Linked DNA regions of Homo sapiens: regions 1, 2, 3 and 5 are each reported to be linked to region 4. Evidence: microRNA targets listed by miRTarBase, many of them from high-throughput screens and not tested one by one. Region 4 holds a microRNA gene; each other region holds the end of a gene's coding sequence. Distances are between the middles of the regions.

Evidence for each region. The annotated mature microRNA hsa-miR-6731-5p reads UGGGAGAGCAGGGUAUUGUGGA and lies in region 4 at 3,677-3,698, shown strand. An mRNA with a match to its seed (bases 2 to 7 or 8) in the 3' UTR can be bound and repressed. Matches are read on the target gene's strand: a 7mer-m8 pairs with bases 2 to 8, a 7mer-A1 pairs with bases 2 to 7 and ends in A, and an 8mer does both.
Region 1: miRTarBase lists BICDL1 as a target of hsa-miR-6731-5p. Seed matches in the 3' UTR shown: 7mer-m8 at 3,527-3,533.
Region 2: miRTarBase lists RAPGEF1 as a target of hsa-miR-6731-5p. Seed matches in the 3' UTR shown: 7mer-m8 at 4,378-4,384, 7mer-m8 at 3,513-3,519, 7mer-m8 at 3,504-3,510, 7mer-m8 at 3,060-3,066 and 7mer-m8 at 2,819-2,825.
Region 3: the mRNA of UBE4B is a reported target of hsa-miR-6731-5p. Seed matches in the 3' UTR shown: 7mer-m8 at 3,599-3,605.
Region 5: miRTarBase lists ARHGAP31 as a target of hsa-miR-6731-5p. Seed matches in the 3' UTR shown: 7mer-m8 at 3,381-3,387 and 7mer-m8 at 2,933-2,939.

The regions. Positions count from the first base shown.
Region 1 is chr12:120,092,254-120,097,353 of GRCh38, reverse strand. BICDL1 (BICD family like cargo adaptor 1) reads right to left here. Exons shown (of 10, transcript NM_001367886.1): 10 at 2,860-4,354. The coding sequence ends at 4,193. RAB35 (RAB35, member RAS oncogene family) reads left to right here. Exons shown (of 6, transcript NM_006861.7): 6 at 1-2,255. The coding sequence ends at 109. Among named protein-coding and RNA genes, the nearest start is that of RAB35, 22 kb to the left of the region's middle. RefSeq lists enhancers at 3,270-3,913, 3,914-4,557.
Region 2 is chr9:131,574,822-131,579,915 of GRCh38, forward strand. It overlaps RAPGEF1 (Rap guanine nucleotide exchange factor 1), which reads right to left. Exons shown (of 27, transcript NM_001377935.1): 27 at 1,954-4,826. The coding sequence ends at 4,676. Among named protein-coding and RNA genes, the nearest start is that of PRRT1B, 32 kb to the left of the region's middle. RefSeq lists enhancers at 4,118-4,167, 4,198-4,327, 4,528-4,607.
Region 3 is chr1:10,178,883-10,183,982 of GRCh38, reverse strand. UBE4B (ubiquitination factor E4B) reads right to left here. Exons shown (of 28, transcript NM_001105562.3): 27 at 4,421-4,567; 28 at 2,744-4,088. The coding sequence ends at 4,027. Among named protein-coding and RNA genes, the nearest start is that of KIF1B, 29 kb to the left of the region's middle.
Region 4 is chr1:24,917,988-24,923,087 of GRCh38, reverse strand. It overlaps MIR6731 (microRNA 6731), which reads left to right and starts at 3,672; the gene lies at 3,672-3,743. It overlaps RUNX3 (RUNX family transcription factor 3), which reads left to right. Exons shown (of 5, transcript NM_004350.3): 3 at 3,744-3,848.
Region 5 is chr3:119,415,894-119,420,993 of GRCh38, reverse strand. ARHGAP31 (Rho GTPase activating protein 31) reads right to left here. Exons shown (of 12, transcript NM_020754.4): 12 at 280-5,100. The coding sequence ends at 4,730. Among named protein-coding and RNA genes, the nearest start is that of TMEM39A, 45 kb to the left of the region's middle.

The sequences.
Region 1 (5,100 bases), not on the chromosome of region 4:
GCTGGTCCTCCGAGCAAAGAAAGACAACCTGGCAAAACAGCAGCAGCAACAACAGAACGATGTGGTGAAGCTCACGAAGAACAGTAAACGAAAGAAACGCTGCTGCTAATGGCACCCAGTCCACTGCAGAGACTGCACTGCGGTCCCTCCCCCAGCCCGAGGCCCACGGAGGTTCCTCGGGGGACAGTCTCAGTTTCGTGCCGTTATTTAAAGAATTCTCTCCATGTTTTTGTATCGGGAGGTGCCATCGGCACTTCCTCCCCCGCCCTCCTCGAGTGCCAAGAAGGTGTTGGACCAGCCCGCCCTTCCCTACTGGTGCCCCCTCCTCCCCGGCCAAGGCGCCTGGACCTGGCGAGGACGCTGCCCGCCGAGCGGACTGATTCGCAGAGTCTGTACATAGTGTATATTGCTCTACCCGGCCGCACACCACGTCCTGCTCTGGCTTTTGCCTTCTTGATGCCAGCCTGCTGCAACAGACCCTCCCCGCGCCCCTCCCCAGCCCATCTTACTGCAAGCAGCGTCCTGAGGAGACAGCGGCACGTTCTAGCTGCGTCTGCGGCCAGCCCGTGCCAGTGGAGTGGGCTCCGCGTTGCTCATTCTCTCCGACAGGTTGTCAGCCTCTGTCCCCGCTGCACAGGGTCTTGCCCCTTCTCCGGGGCCTGTGCCAGCTCCCTTCCCTCCCCGTTGTCCTGTCCCCACAGCCATTCTGGGAGCTGGGGAACCTGGTCTCAAGGCAGGCCCTGCAGTTCCACAGAGGTGGCAGGTCTTGCCCTTTGGCCAACAGATTTCTTGTCCTGCCTTCTAGATGCCTCTGAGCTCCAAACCCAGGGCAGCCATGGCTTCTCATTTACACCAACAGGTTTCAGTTCCAACAGAAAGGTCGGGGTAGGTTCGTGCAGAGATGGGGCTGGCAGGGGGGCTATGGGAGGATTATTTTAACAGATCAAGAAAATGAAGCCAAATCAAGTGAATTAAATTCCTCACAATTATTTTCTTTCCCTGAGGTTTGATTGGCACAGCAGCAAAAGTTGAGGCCACCCCACTTGTGTCCACTGTTTTTAGAAAAAAATGAATGGCTTCCTGCCATTGTGGGGCTGGACTCTTGGGCTTTCTTGGTGGGAGCGGAGAAGGGGCCTCCCACCCTTGTCCGAGTTGCCTCCCACTGGAGGTCAGGAGTCTACACTGCAGCCTCGGGCACTGTGGGGAGTGCATGCCTGGGGCCTCTGGGTGGGGACCATGGACAGGCCCTGGTCACTGTCCTAACCTTTGTCAGGACAAAGGTAGCAAGAGGATTTCCTGGCGGGTGGGAAGGAATGGCTGGGGCGGCCAGTTTTGACACGCCCCAGTGCCCTGGAGAACAACCAGGGTCATCTGCACTTGATGACTGCTCCCCGACCCCCAGCCCGGACACCTCATTCCCCTCCCACTACAGGGATCAAGTGACCTGGGAAGAACCGAGTTTAACACCAGGATGTGTTTCCTTAGATTTCCTTTCCTAGGCGATTTCCAGGGAGAGCCCTGATTGGACAATCACATCACAGATCACACTGCAGTTTCCATGTTAGCACTGTGGATGGGTTTTTAATCAATAAAAACTGGGGGTTTCTTCTCACCGACTCTCCACTTGCCCAAACTGCCAAAAGCTGGTGATTCTGGGACAGGCCTTCACTTTGGAGCCACGGGATGGGGTGGGGGAGCCCCATGGGCCTGGGAAGGAGGGTGCTGTGGAGGGGGCTGCAGGGCTGACCAGCAGGCAGCCTCATCTGGTCGGGGGCGGGGGCGGCAGGAGCAGAAGCGGGGTCTCCGTCCTTGGGACTGTCCTGGTTGGCCACGGGCCCTGAGGATGCACGGTGCCTGGGGCTCCTGTGCCGGTGGGCGGGGGGCATGCTGGCCTCTGAGCGATCAGGCGAGGCCAGCGAGGGTGTGCTTGCAAATTCAAGCAATAAGAGGGGGGTTCCTGGGGGCTTCCAGCCCAGGCTAGAAGCCCCCATGGCTTCTGGCAGCTGGACATCAGCCCCAGGTATTGGGGTGATTTTGGTCATGACAGTGTGCCTGTCCCACTGTTACACGCATGAATGGGGGTTATGGGGTGGGGGTGGGGACTCAGGGCTGGACCGACGTCCTAGTGGACCTGATGTGAAATTCCTGTCAAACAAACACCACTTTTCAATGGTTTGCTAGGAGTATTTCTGTATTGAAAGTTTCTAATTATGCTTTTTAAAAAAATACTAAAAATAAAGGTTCAAGCTGCCAAATTTTCTTCCAGGGTCTGTTTGCTCTCCCTCCAGAGATGTGCTGAGTGGCCGTGGCTTCTTCCCACCCACCGTGTCCTGCTCTTCCCTGTTCTTGGCCTAAGTCTTGCACAGGAGCCTGTCGAGGCCCTTGGGACACTTCCAGAAGCCAGGTCCATTTTCTCCATGAACAGGTGGGCCAGGGTTGAGTCTCCCCCTAGTTGGACTGGGAGCACATGTGGTAAGATGCCAGGGGAAGCTCCGTGTTTATCCTCCACATGCCTGGAAGGATGCAGTGGAAGCCTTTGCCTGGCGTGGTTTCTTTCTGGCTTGAAGTTTCTGCCAAGCTTTAGGGCCCTGCTGGCCTGGGAAGCAGCGTTGGCAGGCCTGCCTTGCGGATGGCACGCTGCAGCACTGGCAGGGGGCAGTGCCAGGCGGGAGGGGCAGGGGAGGATGCCCTTCCTGGCCAAATCCCTTGGTTAAGTAAGTACCAGCATCTGAGGTGGCCCGGGTGCAGGGGAACCACTATTGCTACCTCTCCAGCAGCAGCCAGTGGTGAGTCTGACATGTCAGCTGCATTCAGACCAAACCCGCCCCCCGCAAATACCCAGAGACTGAGGCAGGAAGCTCTGTAGAAATTCATTTTATTCTTATTCAGACTATTTTCAAAAGAAGCAGTGGTGTGCTGTTTTTCTAAAAATATGCCTTTATAGATTTTTATATATGTATATTATAAAATCCATACATGTATTTACATGATTGCTACATACAAAATTACAGCACTGTGGTATGTACACATCTACAGGTACATTCTTGCCGCGCATCCCTGCTGTGCTTTCCCCACGTGAGGGAGGGAGGGAGACTGAATCGGTTGTGAGCAGCTGAGGGCTGGCCGGGCCGCGGAGCCTCTGAGTTGGGGCCTGGGTGGAGGAGGAGGGGCGGCTGCAGAGGCAGGAGCAGCAGCCACTGCAGGCTTCTGCAGGCAGGCAGGCAGCATCTGGAGGCTTCCGGCAGCCTCCCCCTCCCCTCCACCCCGTGGTGCCTGTGCTGCCCTCAAGGTGGGGTGGCTGACCACAGACCCCTCTGGTGCCATTCAGTGGCCTGGACTTGTTTGGCTAGGCCAAGAAATTATGTATGTATGTGAGGGGTGGAGGAGGGAGCTGTGGGAGGAGGAGACCCCGTCCAACCCCAGCCCTGAGCAGGGGAAAGGGCTGGATGGCTAAAGCCTGCAGATGACTGGTGATAACACTCTGCCTGGCCAGGCCCTGCTAAGGGGCAGAGACTGAAGGCTGGGAGGGAGAGCAGTGGCGACAGGGGGACAGGGCCTTCTTCCTCCCTGGGGCTCGGGTGGCCTCAGCTGAGCTTGGGTAAGCCCCGGCTCTTAGACCCTGCGGCCAGAGGCTTGGCCTCCTGCCAGCTGAGGTGCATGCATGCGGGGGAGGGGCTGCCATCTCTCCTTTGACCCTGGGCCAGGGGCTGGGGAAGGAATGGAGGCTCAGGCCTGGCCCGCTGCCCCCACAGGTCTAGGCCCCTGGGGCTCAGGCCTCCTGAGGCATGCAGAGAAGGGCCTCCATTCCTTCTGTTCCCCATTTGCTAAAATCAAGGAGGCAGCAGTGCCTGGGGGTGGGCTGCGATCTGTTGGGTGTGAGCTGCAAAGCCCAACACCAAGGGGCCCCTCTGGGAGGTGGCCTAACCCTGCTCAAGCACGTGGTCCTGGAGAAGCCCAGGCGTGGGCTTGGCCAGGCGGTGGGCCAAGGGAAGCCTTCAGTGGCCAAGGCAGGCCCCCACCTCTAGGTCTCCATCCCCACCGACGAAAGGGAGCAGGCCCTCCCGGACCCATGGGGCCCTAGCATGAGGGGCAGGGCAGCTGCTGAGGTGCAAGCTGCAGGGGAGGCCTTGCCTGCACCGCCTTTCCAGCTGCCTCCAGTCCACCCATCTTTGGTGGCCTGACTCCTCCCAACTTAAATTTTCCTGAAGAATGAGAAGAGTCGTTTGCCTTCAGCGATGCTGGGCTCATCCCCCCGCCCAGCGCTGTGGCCCCTGCAGAGGGCAGCAGCCGGCTGGCTCCGTTCTTTCAGGTGCGTGTCCATCAGCTGCCGGTCAATGACCCTGTGCATGTCATCCTGCAGAGGGGAGGGGACAGTGGCCAGGACTGAGTAGCTGCTCTCACCTAACCCTGGGGCTGGACAGGGAGGTGGGAACATCAGACAGATGAGAGATGAGAATGTGATGAGTGAGAGGCTGCAGCCGGGACTGCCCTGACCAAGAAAGCGGTGAGCGTGGGCAAGACACCAGGCGCACGCAGGAGCCGTATGGCACCTCCAGCCTCCTCAGGCTTGGGCTGGGTTCTCCTCAACAGTGTTACTCCTGCTGGGCCGCCACAGTCCTCAGCTGATGGCTCGGGTGGTCTCTCCCTGCAGTCTCCACACTAGCACTCCACCTGCTCTGACCAGGCCTCACGGCTCTGCCTCCTGTGTCCTGTGGGCCTGGCTGGTGCCTCCGGTTTGGCTTGCCACCCCCAGCCCCGGCAGGCCCTAGGGCCACCTCAGCTTAACAGCTCCCCAGCCCAATGGCCTGGCCTCAGGGGCTCCTCCTGCCTTTTCCTTTCCAATTATTCCAGCCTGAGCTACTGATGCCCAGGCACCAACGGCAGCCTCACGTGGCAAGGATGCCCTGGGTGCTGCCCTAGACCCTGCTGCTGAGGCTCCCATCTGCGGCAGAGGCCAGGGGCCTCACGGTCTTCAGGGGCTGTCCTGCACCAAATCAGGCCCATTTCTTTCAGCTTCCTCACTGGGGTAGGACCGTCCCCCAACTCGAATTCGTTCATGTGGTCCAGAAAATGCCTTCCTCCCCACAGCCCGCCCCACCA
Region 2 (5,094 bases), not on the chromosome of region 4:
TATATCCAAGTATTAACTCATTGAAACTTTGTGAGACCTTAGAAAGCAGAGTCTGTTATTACCCCACTTCCAGCTGGGGAAACTGCCAAGCAGAGAAGAAAACCACTTACCCAGGGTCCTTTTGCTTATCAGCTGCAGAGTCAGGACACAGCCCTTTGCAGCCAAGGACATATTCCCCCAGACTGCTGGCAGCCAATGAGGGACTCAGATGGCCCGAACCACACCTTGACTGCTTCCTAAATAATGCACCCCTAGTGAATGAATGAAAAAAAAGGTTTGAATGAATGCTGGGGCCTGCCTCCCATCCCACAGGGGGAACAATGAGCAGTCAGCCATCATACCCCATTCTCCAGCCTTGCACCACTGGGGGCGGGACCCAGATTGTCGACCTACTGCAAGGTCAGAGCAGGTGGGAGGCTTGGGGCCCTCAGCTCAGACACCTTCGGGGGGACCGCAGTTCTTGGTTGGAGCAGGCATCTGAGCCTCCTGGGTTACTGGCTAAGCATGCACACTCGCAGGTCCTGGGCGGGGACACTGTGGGGGTGGGGTGGAAGCCAAGGTGTTTCCTCCGTGACTATGGCGGCTCCCTTGGTGAATCTCGCGGTCTGCCGGTCACCAAAGACCAGGGTGGGTCGCAGCAGCTGCTGCCCCGCAGCCCTGGTGGGAAGGCTGAGGCCTGAGGTCCATACCTGGCACATCACCTCCTGCTCACTGGGGTTGTTGGGGCCAGACCAGCTTCCTGGCATTGCTGGCAGGGGAGGGAGATGCGAGTGGAGGACTCAGGAGTGGACTGGTCTCTCTCGGGCTTCTGTGTGCTCATTGGTCGAAATGGACAAAAGCAGATAATGAGGAGCCTGAGGCATGAGTGGCTGAGCAATCTGCCCGAGGACACAAGGAACAAAAGAGAGAACCTGGGCTTCCATCACCTACGAGGTTCATGGAGGCTTTGGCGTTGGCGCCTGACACACAGGCAGCCAACAGCTCTGGATGGTTGATGCCTGCCTGATGCAGGGTCCCTTCTATCAGATCTTGTGATCAGCCCAGGAATACTTGGCCCCTTCCCTTTAAAGGGACAGACTTAAGCTGCTGCCTTTGCGGGGCATGAGGGGAGATGCCTCCTCCTCACCAGGCCTGACCTCTGCACGATCAGGTACAGAGAGATGCAGAGATCCTGGGCTTCCCCAGGGGCCGCCGTGGGGCTGAAAGTTGGGGACTGGGAACCAGGGTGAATATGAGGGCTGGCCCTGATCCCCGCCATCCCTGGGTGGCTATGCTGGGGTGCTTGGTCTCAGGTGCTAGGATGGAAACAATGGGGCACAGGTGGGCTGTGGTGTGGGAGGACAAGGAAGACAGGGAGACAAATGGCCTCCCAGAGCCATTGGGCCCCGTGCCTTACTCCGCATGGAGGGGACACAGCACACCTCGGGGCAGAGAAGGGACTGGAATCCCTGGGGCCTCCTCACTCTGTCCCTTGTAAGTGCAGAGGCTCTGCTGTTCTTCACTGGGGCTGGGCCCGAGCCTCTGTGTGCTGCCTCCTGGGCGGCAGAGGACACACCGCAAAAGGCACGCCATAAAGACAGTGCTTCCGGGCCCCGAAGGAGCAATTCTAGAGCCTGTGCCCCCGAATCCCACCCGAGGAATGCCCTTTTCATCAGGACACTGGGGTGAGGGGCTCTTGTGCATGAACCGACCTCTGGAGCACGAGCAATTCTTTGTCCAGTTGAATGCTTCTAGGGCACAAGGCCTAGGAGGGAAAGTTCTGGTGACGTCCATTTCACTCAGCCACGACTACCCCAATGGCAGCAAGTGGGCCTGGGAGTGGAGCTGAATGACCCCAGCCTCCCAGGAGCCCCGCCTGCGACAGGGGTCTCAGAAAAGAGATGGCAAGGCCAGCATGGAGCAGGCTGGGCTGTCACTGTAGTTGCACACATGCAGCTGGGCGCGGACATGGCATTGGGCAGCTTTCATCTGTGTTTATTTTTTTTCATATAAAAGTTACATGTTTGAAATGTCTGCAGGAAGATGCCACCATCAGACAGGTTAGCTGGGGCATATATATTACAATGTAACCCTGTGGAGGTCGTGGGGCCGGAGCGGGAAGATGCTCCCCAGAATCGGGTTCAGGTCAGACATGGTGTGTGCCTGCCCCTCCTTGCCCCCCCACACCCCGACACCTGCAGGTGAGGACTGACCTCTGCAAGGAACGAGTCCTCCGCCTGGCTCACGTCTGTCTGTGAAGACTGATTCCCACAACCCGCCCGGGCCCCCCAAAGGAACAGACGAGCCACGGCCAGGCCGCAGCACTGAGCACAGAGCTCAGCAATAACCAGGGCCAGGCTTAGGGGGCACAGGGGGCTGCCTGCCATCAATAAGTTAGACATACATCGCACCTTGCCGTCCTCACGCAGGGAGCCCCTGGGCACTGCTCATGTGCTGCCTGGGCCCTGCTGCTCAGAACACCAAGGGCTCCCAGTGAGGGCCTGGGGAATTGCCTGGGCACACTGGGGCCAGGCACAGGGTCTGTTCTGAATTCAGGGAAGGTGAAGAGACCCCACCTCTATCCAGCTCAAGCCCAAGAACAAGGCAGACAGAGCTGTGGACAGCACCCGACCACAGACACGGTTCTGCCTGCTGCTGGAGTGAGAGGCCTGGTTTCTGAGGCTGCAGCATGGCACTGGCATTGCCTGTGCTACAGATGGGGACTCCTGCGAGTCTCACAAATACAGGGAGAATTTCAGTTCACACAACCCAAGGGCCCTGTGTGCAGAGCGGCCCTCACACGCGCACAGCAGCATTCAACAGAGCTGGGCAAGGGAAGGGGAGAGAGAGTCAAGGATTGAAATGAAGGGACTTCAAAAAGAAGGAACAAACTAAAAACCCAACCCACACACAATACTGTTAATAAGCCAGCGACTCTACACACACACTCCTTAAATAATAAAGTGACAGGTCCCGGCTGGCCCCGCAAGACCACCGCAAGAGGGGGTCCCGCCACCAGAGGGGGTCCCGCCTGCCACTGCACGGCTTTCCTCCCTCTATCTACAGGACAAACAAAACACGGGAGAGGGGAAAAAGCCCACATTTTCTTCTTGATAAATGCTGTTCAAAAACCCATGAAGGACTCAAAGTGACATGGTGGTTTAAAAAAAAACCTAAATGATCAACAGATGTTGCTTTCTATATTTTTCCTTTGTTCTGTTTGAACTGGGCTAAGTAAGCACAGTTAGACCCTGCTGTTCACTTGACCACGTCCTAAACCCGGGACAAGTGAGCACTCATTCATGCACAGCAGACCCGGAGGCATGGGCTGGGGCAGCACAACTGGGTTCCCGCAGCGCCCTGCCTGCAGGCTCATGCTGGAGGCCACGGAACCAGGCGGCACAGGGCAGATTCTGTTTGTCAAGCGCCCCACAAGCCTTGCCCAGATTGTCAAGCTCAGCAGCGAGAATGGTTTTGACGAGGAGGATGGAAACAGCATCTGCTCTGGAAGCCGCTCTGGCGTGGGGAGAGTGGGGAGAGGGTGCGCTTGCTGCAGCTGCTGCCTTAGGAGGCTCCTCTGTGGCCAGGCTTCTGCCTCCCTGCACCCTGAGGGACCATTCGGGTGCCTCAGGGATGCCCTTCCCTCCCAGGGGCACTGACAGCACTGGCTGAAAGGTCTGAAGAGCCAGAGGAGGAGCCCTGCTGGCTGGCCCAGGATGGGGCAAGGAGGGAGGGAAAGCCAGGGGATGGGGAGGGACATGAGATGGAGTTTAAGGCACACAGCGAGCGATGGAGGAGGGAGGTGCTGGCCTCTCCCCTCTGAATTAACTCCCCCAGGAGCTCAGCTCTGGCCTCAGTTTGGTGAGGTTCAGAAGACTCCCAGCAATAAAAAGTATTTCTTGGATGATCAAGTCCTCCCTTACTCCAGCCTCCTCTTCTCAGCTCCCCAGGTGGTGTGGGAGGGGCCCAGTGGCCTGGGGTGGGGGGTAAGGGGCGACGGGATGACAGAGACTGCTGCTGCTCTCAGGCGGGCAAGGGAGGCCCTGATGGCGCCAGTACCGCGGGGCAGAGCACCAGCTGCGGGGCTGCTAAGGCGTCACCTGCGTACCTTTCCGGGCCTGCTGAAAAGCTCACACCATCCTCCATGCATCAGAAGGGGAAGCGGAAAGTGAAAGGATCCTCCCCCGAGTCTACTCTGCATTCTGCCCACCCAGCTGCTTGCCCCCATTCCAGGGCCCCTGCAGGACAGGCCACCCCAGGAGGCCTCCACTCATTTGAGATTTCAGAAGATTCAGGGACCCTGGAGCTTAGGGAGGGGGAGCACCCACCACTTCCTTGGTCTGCTGATGAGGTCTCTGCTGCTCTCTCCCTGGAGGGGAGTGGGTGGAAGGTCAAGAGGGGAGAGATGGAAGTAAAAGCAGAAAACAAAACCAAACCAGAAAACCACCGGTTTGTAAATTGGCAACAAGACCTGCCTGCTGGCTGCCCTGAGGCCCACGGGTCTGCTCCCACAGAGGAAGGAGGCAGGAAGCGGCTGGCAGGCTCCAGCTCCCGCCCGGCCCCGCTGAGGGCTGGCCAGCCTCATGGCTCCGAGGCCGGGACTCCTGCCATGCGCCTAACAGGTCCAAGGTCCTCTCCGGTCTGGGAGCTGCCCTCTGCGCCCCTCGAGCATTCTCCTGGATCCCGGCGTCTGCTCCTAGGTCTTCTCTTCCCGGTCTGTTTTTCTCCTTGTTATGTTCCTGGGTTTAATTTTCAGAGACAGTTCCCATAGGGCCTCCTCAGCCAGGTGGTCACTGAAGTCATTGAAGAAGTTTATAATGTCGTCGTTCCTCCGCATGTCATAGTGCCTGGTGCAGGGGATGGGGAGCAGTCAGTGAGCACCTGTGTGGGCTGGATGGCCCGATGGCGCCACCCTCCTGGAAGGTGCCGCGGGGACCATCCCCACAGCCTCGCAGCAAACGGATGCTGCAGGGGCTACCGTTGACCAATGTGACAGAGGGGACACCAGTGCTCAGAGACGGTGCCACCAGCACATGGAGCACAAACAGGGCCCTGAGGCTGGGCTGCTCACAGGGAGGGGGCCCCAGGTGATCCCACTGCCCCCAACAACGCATG
Region 3 (5,100 bases), 15 Mb from region 4:
AAGTTATCTAATTGTTTAAAATGGGGGTTAGGTCTAGAGCTGATCTCAAGGCCAAAGTCCCTTCCAAAATGCTATGCTGCTTCTCCTTGGGCATTCTGAGCTATTCTGAACTTCTAGCATTCTGGAACTCTGCCATACAGCAGGAGTCGGGAAGAGATGAGGCTGGAAAGGCCAGATGGCCTAGATTCATGTGCCAGTTCCACTACATTATGGTTGTGGAGGGTTAAATTAATTAATATATGTGGCCGGGTGCGGTGGCTCTTGTCTGTAATCCCAGCACTTTGGGAGGCCAAGGCAGGTGGATCACGAGGTCAGGAGATCGAGACCACCCTGGCTAACACGGTGAAACCCTGTCTCTACTAAAAATACAAAAAATTAGCTGGGCATGGTGGCGGACACCTGTAGTCCCAGCTACTCGGGAGGCTGAGGCAGGAGAATGGCGTGAACTTGGGAGGCGGAGCTTGCAGTGAGCCGAGATCGCGCCACTGCACTCCAGCCTGGGCGACAGAGCGAGACTCTGTCTCAAAAAAAAAAAAAAAATTAATACATGTAAGAGTGGCTTGCACATAGAATATGCTCATGAAATGCAAATGATCATCACCAATTCAGAATGACTTTCTTCACCAACACTATCTGACACCAGCATCAAGCTCATAGGCTACTGTGTCTCCTTCAATCAAAAACGTACCTTGAGGCCTGGTGTGGTGGCTCATGCCTGTAATCCCAGCACTTCGGGAGGCTGAGGCAGGTGGATCACTTGAGGTCTGGAGTTCAAGACCAGCCTGGCCAACATGGTGAAACCCCATCTCTACTAAAAAAAAAAAAAAAAAAAAAAAAAAATTAGCTGGACATGGTGGCATGTGCTCTAGTCCCAGCTACTCGGGAGGCTAAGGCAGGAGAATCACTTGAACCTGGAAGGTGGAGGTTGCAATGAGCCAAAATTGCGCCACTGCACTCCAGCCTGGGTGACGGAGCGAGACTCCGTCTGAAAAAAACCAAAAAACAAAAAAAAGTACCTACTCAAATGAGGCCTATTCATGTCACTTTAGCACTCCAATCAAATTGCTGTGAAATTCACTACTCGATGTACCAAACCCAGAGGTTACAAAAAGTGAACGGTGTGCTCAGCTTTTTTTTCAAAAGATATTCAATCAATATCTTTTTAAAATCTACACAACACTGAGTCACAACACAAGGCAGATTTTAATCATCTTTCTCTCAAGGATCATTTCTCTTCTGCCAATCTGATTCTCTTATTTGACAATCTTCCTTTTAGCCAAGACCTACTTTTAATATATTTTGGGATTTATTTCAATATCCACAATTAAGAGACTGCAGACAAACACAAAACAGCAACTCTTGAGACTCTAAAAATGGAAACCCAAATCATCTTCCCCCTATAGATAGTACAGGCAGGAGACTGACTGTGTCTCTGTCCTATCCGGCAGGTCCTTGAAACCTCTGAATTATTCAAAACGACAAGTGCATATGGCGGTATAAAGCAGCATTTTATTACATTCACGGGGACAACTGGAGGATTAAAATAAGAGTTTGGAATCTGGGATGGAGAGGAGACAAGCAGTACACACTGGTCAGATAACCACACAAACAAAATTAGGCAAGATGCCAGTCAGTATCCTAATTCTACAGGCACTAAGCTTAGATATGTAAGTTTAGTAAAAAGTAAACCCAATTAAACAGAATCTTCTGCATGGTGAGAATATGGATTTTTTTTCTTTTTGCTTATATTGCCTAAAATTTTTGCTATCATGAACTTTTTCCTTATTTATTGTGTCTATCTATCTATCTATTTTTTGAGACGAAGTCTCACTCTTGTCCCCTAGGCTGGAGTGCGATGGCGCGATCTCAGCTCACTGCAACCTCCACCTCCTGGGTTCAAGCAATTCTCCTGCCTCGGCCCCCCGAGTAGCTGGGATTATAGGCACCCACCACCACGCCCAGCTAATTTTTGTATTTTCAGTTGAGATGGGGTTTCACCATGTTGGCCAGGCTGGTCTAGAACTCCTGACCTCAGACGATACACCTGCCTTGGCCTCCCAAAGTGCTGGGATTACAGGCGTGAGCCACCGCACCTGGCCATGTTATATATATATATATAAATATATATAAATAAATATATATGTAAATATATATAAATATATATTTTTTCTTTTTTGAGACGGAGTCTCGCTGTCACCCAGGCTGGAGTGTGATGACGTCATCTCGGCTCACTGCAACCTCCACCTCCCAGGTTCAAGCAATTCTCCTGTCTCAGCCTCCCGAGTAGCTGGGACTACAGGCGCTGCCACTACGCCCGGCTAATTTTTTGTATTTTTAGTAGAGATGGGGTTTCACCATGCTGGCCAGGCTGGTCTCGAATTCCTGACGTCAGGTGATCCATCCGCCTCAGCCTCCCAAAGTGCTGGGATTACAGGCGTGAGCCACCGGGCCCGGCCTGAGGAAGAATCTTGAAGGTCAGGGAAGATACTTGAGATAAAGCAGAAGAAACTCAAGAAAGGCAGAAGACTGAATATGACAAAGCTTACCCCCTCAAATCAGCAAACAGTGAAATGAGAACCAAATGTCGAGACTGACATGAATAAGAAAGTTTTCTTTTAAAAATAGCAGCTCCTAATTGGATCCAGGAAAGATCATTCACCACATGCAAACTCACTTGGCTCTTGTTTACCCACCCGCCCTGCCCTTTTTTTTTTTCCACAAAAGAGAAGAGACTCAAAGAAGATTTCTTCTGAACGTGTGTCACCATTTATTGTAGTTTGCGTTAGGAATTGAACAGAGGACATTGTCTGTGGAGGGAAAAAAGGAAAAGAAAAAAGAAAGTATGCTTTTTATAGACTTAATTTCTTCAGAACACTTTATGGTTTCAAATCCTTTTTTTTTTTTTACCCCAAAGGAAATTTGAGAATTCAAGTATGTTAAGTAGGGAGCAGTAATACAAAAAGTCTTATACTTGTGTGCGCGTGTGGCTGTGTTTGTCTGTGTGTGTTGAAACCGGCAGACATACTCCCACATTCTTGCACCCTCTTTTGCTTTGGTAAGGCCAAACACATCACACAAATGACCCTGCCTCAAACTCACACACCCAAGGGTTGAAGAATTGATTTACCCCCAGAGGATAACTGTGAAGGTTTCAAACTGTCACGTAGCATTAAAAAAAAAACCCAACCCTCATCTCCCCAAAATATAAGTCACATAAGTCCTGATACACTTACACCCCTAGATTTTGCTGCAGCTGCTCCTCAGATGCCGAAGAGAGGCTTATCACAAGGACCAGAGCAGCAGGATTTTCTTTATTTTGTTTAGAATAAAAAAATCTTAAAGGGACATTTCAAAAGAAAAAAAAAACTGAAATTCAAATTCTGAAAATATCTTGCCTTTTTTATTAATCATGTCATCTAACACCAATTAAAAAAACAAATATGTGAATATGATATAAAAATACGATCCCAGGATTAACACTTGGTAGCAGGCACAGTTATCTCACAGAATATATGTTTGGAGGGCCAGGGAAAGGAGTTTACTTTTGTTTTTGCTTCTCTTAAAAAAATCCACAGCAGTGCAAGTAGGGTCAGGAAGGGGGAGAGGGGAAAAAAGATTCTTTAGCAGCAAAATGTCCAAGGTTCTCTAATCACAATCAAATCAACGGATATTGGATTAAAAAAAAATTCATGAAGGGATGCTGCCCAGACCCATTAGCCATCACTAAAAGACTTCCGTTGCCCCAAACTGTGACATACGAAGGACATGCTTTATTACACAAGCAACCATAAAACCTGTCCCTTAAGCTTTTGACCGTGTTTGTCACTTAAATATATGTACAGGAAGCGGGCTCCTCTTCTCATCCATGTCCTTTCAGGTCTCAGCGTTTGCTCGCTCTGGGTGGGCCTGGGGTTGGTTTGCCACATTTGGCCTCCAACACATGAACGGCAGCTTCGCTGCGGCCGCTGCTTCTGCTTGCCTCGTTGGCCTTGGCTGTGTCTAGCAGAGGGTGGGCGGCGGAACGGTTTAGTGATCGCTGTTCTGTTTCTCTCTCATCCACGCCTGAATCTGCTCTTTCAGTTCTGGCACTGAGAAAAGAAAAAAAGGAGGATTAATGCCCCAGATGGGAGGGCTCTTCCTGAGAGAGGATGCTTGTCGCTCTGTATAAATGGGAAGAAAAGGCCATTCTTTCCCTCATTGAGCCGAAGACTCCAGAAGGACTGGGACATGAGAGGGAGGGACTGGATGTCTGCAGGGAAAAAGGGCCAAGAGTGTTTTGGGTCTTTGCTACAGAGTGTCATAAAGTAGGTAGTTTCTGCATTTGATAAATTTCCCTTCTGCTTCATCTCCAATATGTGACTTGGGCTTTATCTCTTGGTACTGACGCCAGCGCTGCACCTCAAACTGCACCCTCCTCTACCTGGTTCCAGCATGCTCTCTGTCAGCGTCTGCCGGTTGAAGGGGTCCGTGGGGGAGTTGAGCAGGTGCCGCAGGATGATGGAGCGGTCCATGATGGTGCCAGAGGGCAGCCGCACGGGGTCTGTCATGAGGGTGTCCATCAGAGGGTCTGCGGGGACAAAGCAAAGCAAACTCTAATCTACTGAGAGCCCACGACTGAAAAAGAAAACAAAGCCCGTTCTACCAGCGAAAAATCTATCCAAAGGAACAGCAATCAAAGGGCCCCTGTGAGGCCCCCAGGTTTAGAAGGAAATCAGCCTTCAATAAAGGCATATACATTGCCTTTTGTAAGGGGAAGGCGCTTCTTTGTCAGCTACTGCTGGGGGGAGGGAACAGAGAAGAAAGCCTGGGACAGACCCAGCAGCAGGCCCCACAGGCTCCGTGGCGAGGACGGCAGGCTGGAATTCTTTGTCTTAGGACTTCTGGGAATTCTTTGAAAATGTGAATCCCCACTTGCAAAGGCAGCCCTGCCCTTAGAATCTTCAGGGTTGTTATCTGGCTTTAAGTCAGGCTAAGCTAAGGATGTTTCTTCCTCTCAATTTACAATATGAGCTAAAAATAGGCAAATGTAATTTAAGACAGATTGTCTCAAAAAGCAGCTCTAGCACACCATTAAAAAATTAATTGCACAGGACGTCCTCT
Region 4 (5,100 bases):
ACCTGTGTGCAAAATGGGAGCCATTATCTCTGCCCTTAATTTATTTAACAAATGTTGTTGAGCACCTACTCTGTGCCGGATGCCGTCCTAGGGGCTGGAGACACTGCATGAACAAGACAAAAACTTGGGCCCCTGGGGAGGTTATAATCTAGTAGAAGGAGACAAAATGAGTAGATGGATTATTAAAAGCATATGCATTGTGAGAAAATTCCAGCAGGTGCAGGGAATAGAGAAAGGGAGTGGTAGGGCCTGTGATACTTCAGGTTGAGCTGCTTAGCGCTTTTTTTTTTTTTTTTTTTTTTTTTGCCCTGTGGGCCCCTCTGATAGCTGGTGAAGCCCGCACACCTTTCTCAGAACAATGATATTTTTAAGGTATAAAATCAAATACAAAGTATTACAATAGAAACCATTTCTATTAAAACATAGCAAAATACTTTAAAAATTGTGGTAAATGTGCTGCTTTATTCAATGTATTAAATAAGATCTAGCATTGGGCCTAATGACAACCATGGTTTTGAAGTTGTGATGAGCATAAAAGATATTTAGAGCAATCTGCAGCAACTGTAATGTGATATGTAAGTATCTGTGACGTCTGTTGGTGACAAGGTCACAGGTACGGCTGATAATACCTCTGTGGTTTGTTGCCTACGCTCGTACTTGAGAGTGATGCTAAATTTCAGTTAGAGGTTAGGGACAATACAATTGTAATTTTTTCCTACCCTAGTTCTCAGGCTCATTCAACTCTACGGAGCCAAGTTAAAAATGCCTTCCAGGTGTAGTGGTTTACGACTGTAATCCCAACACTTTGGGAGGCCAAGGCAGGAGGATCACTTGAGCCCAGGAGTTCAAGACCAGCCTGGGCACATAGTAAAAGCTTGAAAAAAAAAAAAAAGAAAGAAAGGAAAGAAAGAAAAGAAAGGAAAGGAAGGAAGGAAGGGAGGGAAGGAAAAGAAGGAAGGGAAAAAAAGAAATAGCCGGGCATGGTGGCGCTCACCTGTTGTCCCAGCTACTCAGGAGGCTGAGACAGGAGGATCACTTGAGCCCGGGAGGTCCAGGCTGCAGTGAGCTATGATCATGCCACTGCACTCCAACCTGGGTGACAGAGCAAGACCTTGTCTCAAAAAAATTAATTAAAATTAAAAATGCCTACTTCAGATAAAGTGACCAGGGAAGGCCTGACTGAGAAGGTGGGCGACCTGAAGGAGGGTTTTAGTAAGCTTTCAAATGCTGCTGTGGGCCCGGGGCCCTGTGGCAGGGCACTGGGACCCATTAGTCCTCCGTGTCTCCAGTCTGGCCCCTAGGGCTCTGGGCTGTCTGCCTAAACTCCCCGTCATAACCAAGAAGGTGCTGGACAATGCTGGCAGGGTCAGAGGCTCAGGGACCCCAGGAGAGTGCTGGGCTGGTTGGAGGAGAAAGAGGTCCAGCAGAGAAATGACCTCAGAGTGAGGAAAGGCAGTAGGAGGGGTCGGGCAGGGAGCCCGAGGCATCTGCCTGGCACTTCCCTAGACCATCTGCACTTCTGCTTCCAGAAATCATACAAAGTGGCCCCTGTGACCTGAGAGTGGGAGACCAGGTCTGTTCTGACCTGGGGCTCCGGGGGCAAGTGCAGTCAGAATTTCTATCCCTGCCTCAGCCGACTGGCTTAGGAAAAGGCTTCCAGAGAAGCCCCTCATTTCCCAGCTGGAGTGACACTCAGTGGGTCTTGAGCTTTAAATTCCCCCTGGTGTCTCAGAGGGCCTTGGGTCCTGTGGCATGGCTCCTGGCAGCCTGGCTGGTTTAATTTTGTTCCGGATTCTCCTGCCTCTGGGGCTAGAATTTTCACTTGATCAGTTGACTAACAAGTACCCGGCCATGCAAAGAGAACTGTGAGATACTGGTCTCCACCCTGAGCTTCATCTCCCACCTGCAACGTGGGGCTGTTGAAACCTACCTGCTCACTTTGGAGGCGTGTCAGGGGGACACCAGAGGGATGCGCTTGGGCAGCCTCTCTCCTTGACCATCCTGTGCCAGCCCTGGGGTACAGGTGAGAGTGCGAGACCATTGGCCCCTACCCACAGGGAGTTCCCAGGCCTGTACGTGGGATCCAGAGGCAGGGATAGGGGGATAAAGTCTGGCTTGGGGGATCCGCAAATCTCCCCCGCTCCCGGCCACCAATCTCATAAAGCATGAGGCTGTGGATCGTAATAGAGAATAGGGTGAGAGGAGGACTCTTACCCAGACCCCCAAACTCCCAGACACATCAGAGAATTCACTGTAGAAAGTAGAGAGAAGACTGTCGAAAGTAAATCTTCATAAACTGCTTTCTACACGGAGAAACCCGTCTGAACATAAAACGATAGAAGAACGAGAAATAGAAGTGAAAATGAAAAACCACCCAGCGTGTGAAGGCAAAATGTGCAGGCCTGTGCCCGGGGAAACTGATGGCCACAAATACAGCATGGAAAGTATTAACAAGCTTAATATATAGCAATTTTTAAAAGGCACTAAAACCTTCACAGGAAAGTAAAAGAACATGAAGCAGTAATTTGTGTTGGATTATGATGGATAATAATCATATAAAAAGTTTCATTCTCACTAGTAATAGAAAAAAAGGCAAACAAAATCAAGAGCGTGTAAAAGATCTTCCATCTTGATAGACACATCCCTGGGGTGTGACGCAGCCTCACACGCGAGGGTGACGACTAAATCTCTCCGGAGAGTCATCTCACTCCAAGAGGGATCCGCGCCCGTAATATGTCCCAACCCTCTGCTGCCGTGAAATCACTCACCGCTTCTTGGAATCTCTTCTAAGGAAATAAGCAGAGATGCAGACAAAGATTTTTATAAACAGAAGGTCACTTTCATTTTATTTTAAATGGTAAAAAAAAAAAAAAGTAGTATTTTAAAAGTTTTTTCCCCTCTCAGGAATTTTGAATGGAGACTTTGGAGCCAAATGTCTATCTAAAAATAGAACATTCTGGAAATAACAGTTGTGTCTACAGAAGAAATGTCTGCAGCTCCCAAATCAGTCCTTTTTCAGCTCCAGCTGCACACATCAATAAGAAATTAGCAACGATGTAAATACCCGAGAGTAAGGAGGTAGATAAATAAAAGATGAGGAGGCTTCCTTGAGTTGAAATATTTTGCAGCCATTAAAAACGAAGTTTATGGAGTTTTAATGACGTGGGAAAGTGCTTCTGATGTGAGGTTAAATGAAAAAAAAAACAGTATGAAAATCTGTATTTTAGTACCACTGCGACTGTGTAAATATACAAACCCATACAAAAAGAGCTGAAAGGGAAAACACCAAATGGTAACGGTGTCTATCTCCAGCTAGTGGAACCGTGGGGGGGGGGTGTCTTTTCTTCTTTATTTATATTTTGTATGTTCTTGAATTTTTCTACAAAGATCACCAATTACTTTCAGAAAATAGAATATACCCATCCTGCTCCCCACCACAAAATCGTGTGGGTCTCTGAATAGAAGAGACAGCAGAAAGGCCAAGAAGAGGGGAACATGAGCCAGGGTGGTCACGGCATGGGGCGGGGGGTTGACAAAGTTGGCGTCAGACCCCCAGGGGCCTTGAATGCCAAGCCCAAGAGCTTGAACTTCACCCAGAGCCCTATCTTCTGCCCATGTTCAAAGAGGACAGAGTGCCCCTTCTTGACAGTTAGGGGCTTCCAGGGGTAGATACAGGTGGGAGAGCAGGGTATTGTGGAAGCTCCAGGTGCCAACCACCTGCCTCTATTCCCCACTCTCCCCAGGGAAGAGTTTCACCCTGACCATCACTGTGTTCACCAACCCCACCCAAGTGGCGACCTACCACCGAGCCATCAAGGTGACCGTGGACGGACCCCGGGAGCCCAGACGTAAGTGCCACCGAGCCCCCTGAGCCCCTGCGCGGGGGAGGAGGGTCCAGTGCGGGAAGGACAGCAGCTAGGTCAGACAGATGGAGCCCTCCTCGGGGGGTTGCAGTCCTTGGCTCTGTGCCCCCACACACTGCGTGCCTGCTGGCAAACCCCTAAACCCTCTGGGCTTAGCCTGAGACCGTGGGAGGCCAGCGAGGAGGCTGGGAGTGGAGATGACTGTCCATGGAGACTACTGAGGGAGTCAAGGAAAGGAAAAGGATGGAGAAAGCTTTCAGATATGGCATTTGTCGGGTGCTTGTGTGTTTCTGGGTGGAGGTTGAGCCAGGCTTGCTTTACTCTGCCCCCAGCTTCTCTGCGGGTGGCTGAGGGATGCATGGAGGGCAGGAGTGATCAAAAGTCAGGGGCTGGTCTGGCTGTGAGGCCAGGCCTCTTCCTTGGAAACTGAGTCTTTGAATCTTAGCATGTGACTTGCTCAGGTCACCCAGAGTCCGGGCACCCAGACCCTATGAGCAGGGAGTTCTGGTCCATCAAAGCGAGTTTGTGTTTAATTCTCTCTGCTTGCTGAAGGTCAGATTAAGGCTGGGGAAGTGGGAGGGTAGGCTGAGGCTCTGTGTCCACAGAATGAATGAATGACTGACTGACTGACTGACTGAATGAATGAATGAATGAATGAAATAGAGCCAGCCAGCTTCCTGAGCTCCATCCCACCTCCCCAAGGCATTTTCAGCTTGGTGCACTGAAGGTTGGCCCACCCCTCTCTTTCTCAGAAATGTGACCCTTTGTAGTTTAGAAGACCTTTTAGCAGTCACTATTGAATGGGATCTTGATGACAGCAGAGCCAGAGGGGTCACCCAAGTTCCAGTGAGGAGAGAATCCAGGCCTGAGGGAGTTGGGTACCTGAATAGGACCTAATGCTGTGCAAGGAGCAGGAAGGCGCCCCAGGCTTCAGTCTTCCCAGAGGCAAGATTCTAGGCTGAGCAGGCCTGGGGCAGGAGGCCTGGGGCAGGAGGCCTAGCCCTGGGCTGGCCCCTCCCTTCTTGGGAGTCAGCTGGGCCTGACACCCCATCATCCAATTCCTGGGCCCATCCCAGCATCTGGCCACTTGGGAAAGGCTTGGAGCTGAGTCCAGCAGCCCTGGAAGAGTTTCCCTCCAGGGCTCTCAGGGTCACCTCTGCCAGCCCTGAGCCCCGGCACGCATCCTCAGGCCTGCACCGTCAGCTCCCAGCCAGCACTTGCCCTGGCCACACTCCTG
Region 5 (5,100 bases), not on the chromosome of region 4:
CAATGAACCTGGTGCATATAATCTACTTTTCTGATTATTGATTTTGGTGACCCCATGTCCTCCTCTAGCTCATAGTTCCATCATAAGCATTATATTTTATATCATTTATTAGAGTATTTATTTTTAAAGCATAAAAATCTGTTTTAATTACTTAAATGTCTCTATGGATAGTTTTAATATTTATATTTGTAATGAATAGAATTACATCTTGATTATGTCTTTGGAAACGTATTTGTAGAGCTTAAAACACAGCTGAAATCATGTGGCTTTCCAATAGACTCCTTTGAAAAAGTGCTTTACTTTGCAGAATTATAAGCCAGAAAGTACTATGACATTAAGTTATTGCAAAGCATTGTGATTTATCCAGTAAAATACATGGCTATGGACCTTGTAAGCTTCTTATATTTAGCTACGTCCCCCTTACCCTCACAGAAAAGTAATCTCTGCATTATTAATGTACCTCAAGATTACTAAATGATCTACACAGTAGCCAGCCAATCTGTGGTGGCCCCCAATTTTATGCTATCTGTACTGGCACTGATTTCAGGCAATCACCCTTCCACCATTGCCCCCTCCTCTCCATGCTTGGAAAGATGCTTGCTCCCTCTTCTGGCCTTGTTTTGCTAGGAAAGGTTTTGGTAGTAGAGCACATATTCTTTGTCATGCCACATTTTGAGCTGACCTTCCTGCCAGACATGTCTAAAATCATAGTCTTAGCAACACTTAACCCCAATTCATGTGGTCATCAGATTGGACTGGCCGTGGTAGAATGTGGCCCAAATAAATCCTGGTGGGACTGGACTTACTGAGAACTTCTCCCACTCTAATACTGGACAAAATAATTGTATGCTCCCCAGTATCTCTTCATGCAGGAATGGAAGGCCTGTGTAGACAAATGACTGTCCCATCCAATTTTAGCCAAATGTGATTATCATATGCCAAACACTGACAAGAACAATTTATCTTGAATTGAACAGTTTATCTTGGGCCTACTGCTTCATCATTAACTAGGAGTTAATCTGCTTTGTGATGACAGAAGTCTCTAAAATCCCCTTTTCAAGCACTATGGAATACTGATCTTACCTGGCTCATTTGCAGAGATCTCACACTTCACCAAACCAATTATGACCACACGAAACCTCCGAACCTAGTTGCCACTATTCTAGCCTAGTTGCCACTTTCCAGTTTTCTAAATCAAGCAAAGTTCTCAAATACCCGAGTGTCTCACTGGGATGTTCTATTGGATTTGCAATTGTGTTCAATTTGATTATTTGGAGTCAGTAGGTCACTTGAATACCGTCAACTATCCTATTAAAAGATGCTTGTTGCCACACTTTTTCCCCTTCTGCTTTTGTTTGGCAACTTAATGGTTCTCAACCTTGCTCCTGGTTGTTTATGGGGGTGTTTTATTTGCTGCCATCCCTCCCCCTTTTTCACTAGACTCTTGAATGATTTGGGAGTGCTAAGGTACCCAGTGCACTATTACTAAGCTCCCAATAAATATTTGCTAAGGATGATGATATTTACATTTTTAATGTCCTCAGAGTCTAGACTTTTGACTTGGACAATATTTTGAATTTTAGGGTTTAGATTAGGTTAGGTGTCTTAATGGGGTTCTTGTTCAGATTTCTTCATATTCCAAGTGTAGCAGAAAATATAGGTTACTATTTTCTTAAGCAACCACTAATGCTGAAAGAAAACGTCAGTACATGCATGCGTTTCACTGCAAATCCATCATTTAACATCAGCAACCCCCATTTTGAGGACTGATAGCTGATTTGAAGGAGCCCTTGAGAATTTGATTGCATAGCCCTTTCTAGGGCACCAGGTAAATCCTCCTAAACACAGCAGCTCCTGTTCTGTCCCTCTCCTGAATGGAAGCAGACTATCTGATTCCCATCCAGCCATTCTCAGGGAGTTCATTTTTCGGAGACTCAAATGAGTGGTGAAATAGGTAATCCCAGAGCATTTGGGGGAACAATTTGTGGGGGGGAGGAATATGAGTTTTCTTTCTTTAGAATGGAATTTCATCAGTGCCAGGCTAGCCCAGACCACAGGAAGTTTATGAAAGCCTTTGTGATGGCTGGCAGGCTGGGTGAGAGTCAAAGTGGAGGTCCACACTTGAGCAGCAGGACTCTGGCTGAGAAGGTGAGTCAGCTTCTAAGGCCTTTTGGACTTGACTAGCAAGGAAAGCTGAGAGTAGGGACTATCTCCACAGCTGTCAGTGTGTCTCATGATGACATCCCCAGAACTGTGTTCCTGAAGGTGATGCTATAAATGTCAGAGTCTAAAAGATCTTGCAACCATTTTATAAATCCACACAGGCATCTCAACCCTTAGAACTGAAGTCACTTGTTAATATGTAAATGGTGGCTTCTCAGTCTATCCCCAAATAAAAATAGATCTTATAAATGTTACCAAACAAACATTTAAAATAATCATAAAATAGTTTACATATTCATTATTTGGCTCAGAGTTCTGATGGTGAAGCAAAGTGCAGCTCTTTCCCTCCCTCGCATTCTAACTGGAACATGGTCCTTATCAGAGCGTCGACACCGCAGGAGCACTGAGGCTGACATAAAACCTGTCTGACACATTTTCTGATAAGGCAGGAATGTACTTTTCAGATCTCTTGAACATGGCCTTTCTCATCTGTCACCACTGTATTTCTTCACTTTGCTGGCCTGGGGAAAAATACTATATTCTAGGACTTTTTTCTTACAGGTTCATATCTCGTTGGCTGTTGGTTCAATGTCTTCCTCACCCAATGAGAAGGCCAAAACACTGATGAAAGGCCTTGCTCACTCAGTGCTCTCAGAAGGCAGAACTCATCAGCTGACTTGCCAGTCACCCTCGCCACAGACACTGGCTTAAAAGGTACAGAACAAGATTTCAAAACTGTTTGTAAGGCTTATTGGCGGGGAGGGAGGGAGGGAGAGGGAGGAGAGAGATAGAGAGACAGAGAGAGAGAGGAATATATATCTGTTGCAGGGCATCAGCTCCCAATTTCTCATTGGAGGAGGTAACTTCATCTCAGCCCCCACTAAGCCCAGAACCAGCCTTGGTTGTGACGCCTACCCAGAGGTACTATCAGCCCTTAGAGAAATTTCTGCAATGACTGAGCTTCTGGGCAGAATTCAGCCAGGCTTGAACCTGAGAAGAGATGCCCTGTGAAGTCCTTTTTTGGGCAGCACCAAAAATCTGCCAGCAGGTATATTAGTTCTCCTTTCTCTCGCCAGCTGGAAAGGAAAGAACCATTGAAAGTTATAAATAATTGAAAAGAAAATCAGATTGGTTTATTGCTTCTGCTTGTATACAGAGTTGAAGAGCAAGTTTGAGTGAGTGCCTGGAGTGGGCGGTGGATGAGGGGAATTATGGAAGGGAGAGGGGTTCCTCAAGTCTGTTATTTTTTAAGAGATGGGGTCTCGCTGTGTTGCCCAGGCTGGTCTTGAACTCCTGGGCTCAAGCAATCCACCCATCTCAGCCTCCCAAAGTGTTGGGATTACAGATGTGAGGCACCGCACCTGGCCTCAAATCTGTTCTTGAGCAGTAGAGAGGAAAGGAGAAAGGAAGGGACCCACTGGCTAAAATAAAATACATTTTTAAGAAGGGCAACTCTCAGTGAGTGGTTGTGATGGCCGCCCTGCTAGGGCTCTTCCCTCGCCTCCTGGAGCTCCTCCCTTCATCCTCTCCTGTATTGCTGGGCCCAGCCTAGTGTGGAAGAAGAGTAAAGCTGAGCTAGAATATTTTCTGCTGGTGCCCCACCAATTTAAACACATTAAATTTGGAGTGTAGTTCTGCCTTTGTATGAGGCTTTTATCTATGGTGACATCCTGTTCTTGGACTCTGATACTGTAAAGAAAGCAGATGCCTTCACTTCACAATTGCATACCTAAATGAAGATTTAGTACATTTCATTATGGTAATCCTCAGCCCAGCCTCCACCCTGCGTAGCTACTGGATTTATAAATTACAGTCCAGTACAGTGGCAGTTGGAGTCCCAAATTACTAAAAGCCAGAGCCAGGAAATCTTCTTGGATTGTGCCAGTCTCAGAGTTTGCTCTTGATTCTGATTTTCTATGCTGGTATATGGAAATCATCTTGGACAGGTCTCCAGGGATTCCAGGGAAAGAGCATGGGTAAGAGTGGCTAAGCTCACCCACTTGGATATCTAAGTGCACGTTAGTTTGCATTTCCAAATCCGCTTCTAATTTGGATAGTACATTTTACAAAGCTTATTAGAAAACTGGTCTAAAAGAACACGTTTGAAAGAGCATTAAAAAGCATAAAGAGGAGGCCTTCTAACCCCAATAGCAACATTTTGAGGTTTGACACAGCAAGAGATTTTTCTTTCTTTCAAAGAACATTACTTCTTTCTTTCAAAGGACAGCCAGCTCTCAAGAGTAATAGATAATAGCAATAGGGGAGCAATCTGACTCACATACAAGCTCCAAAGTTCATTGGAGGCAAGCATTCCATCCTCTCCCCTTACCTAACCTTCTCTCACTTGCTCACATAGACTTAACTAAATTTCATCTCTCGTTTTTCCCTTGACCACTCTTCTAGCAAATGGACTAATTAATAAGTGGTCAAAAGGCTGAAGAAAGAGAAGTCAGAGGCCACAATAGGCCCAAACTTGATAACGTGTGCCTGGAATATGGCAAGCTGGCCCTGTAATAACTTCCAGATGAATCACGGTTTTTTTCAGACACCAGCAGGTGAACCGAAATCATTCTATTTGCCTCCCACTTCTTCCATCCAGAATTACTGATCTCCGCTGAGGCTGGTAAAAACAGCTGGTTGAGGTCTCTAGTCTCTGGCCATTCTTAGGGATGGTCATTTTATTCCTAAGTGTAACCCCTTCTGGTGTGACCCATGTGTTTTCTGCCAACTCTCCACAAAGAAGGCCAGGGGAAACTGTCTGGGTGGGACTTCTGATAGGGGACAGCAGGACCTTGGAATCTGTCACTGTGGATGAAGGGGGCAGGTGGTCCATAATGGGGAAAGGAGGACTGAATAAGATTAGGCTCTGAGGTCTTCCTGGCCTTGACCTGTGGAAAGGCTTAGAACCCCCAGATGGTCGCTCTAGTTTTGAAGAAA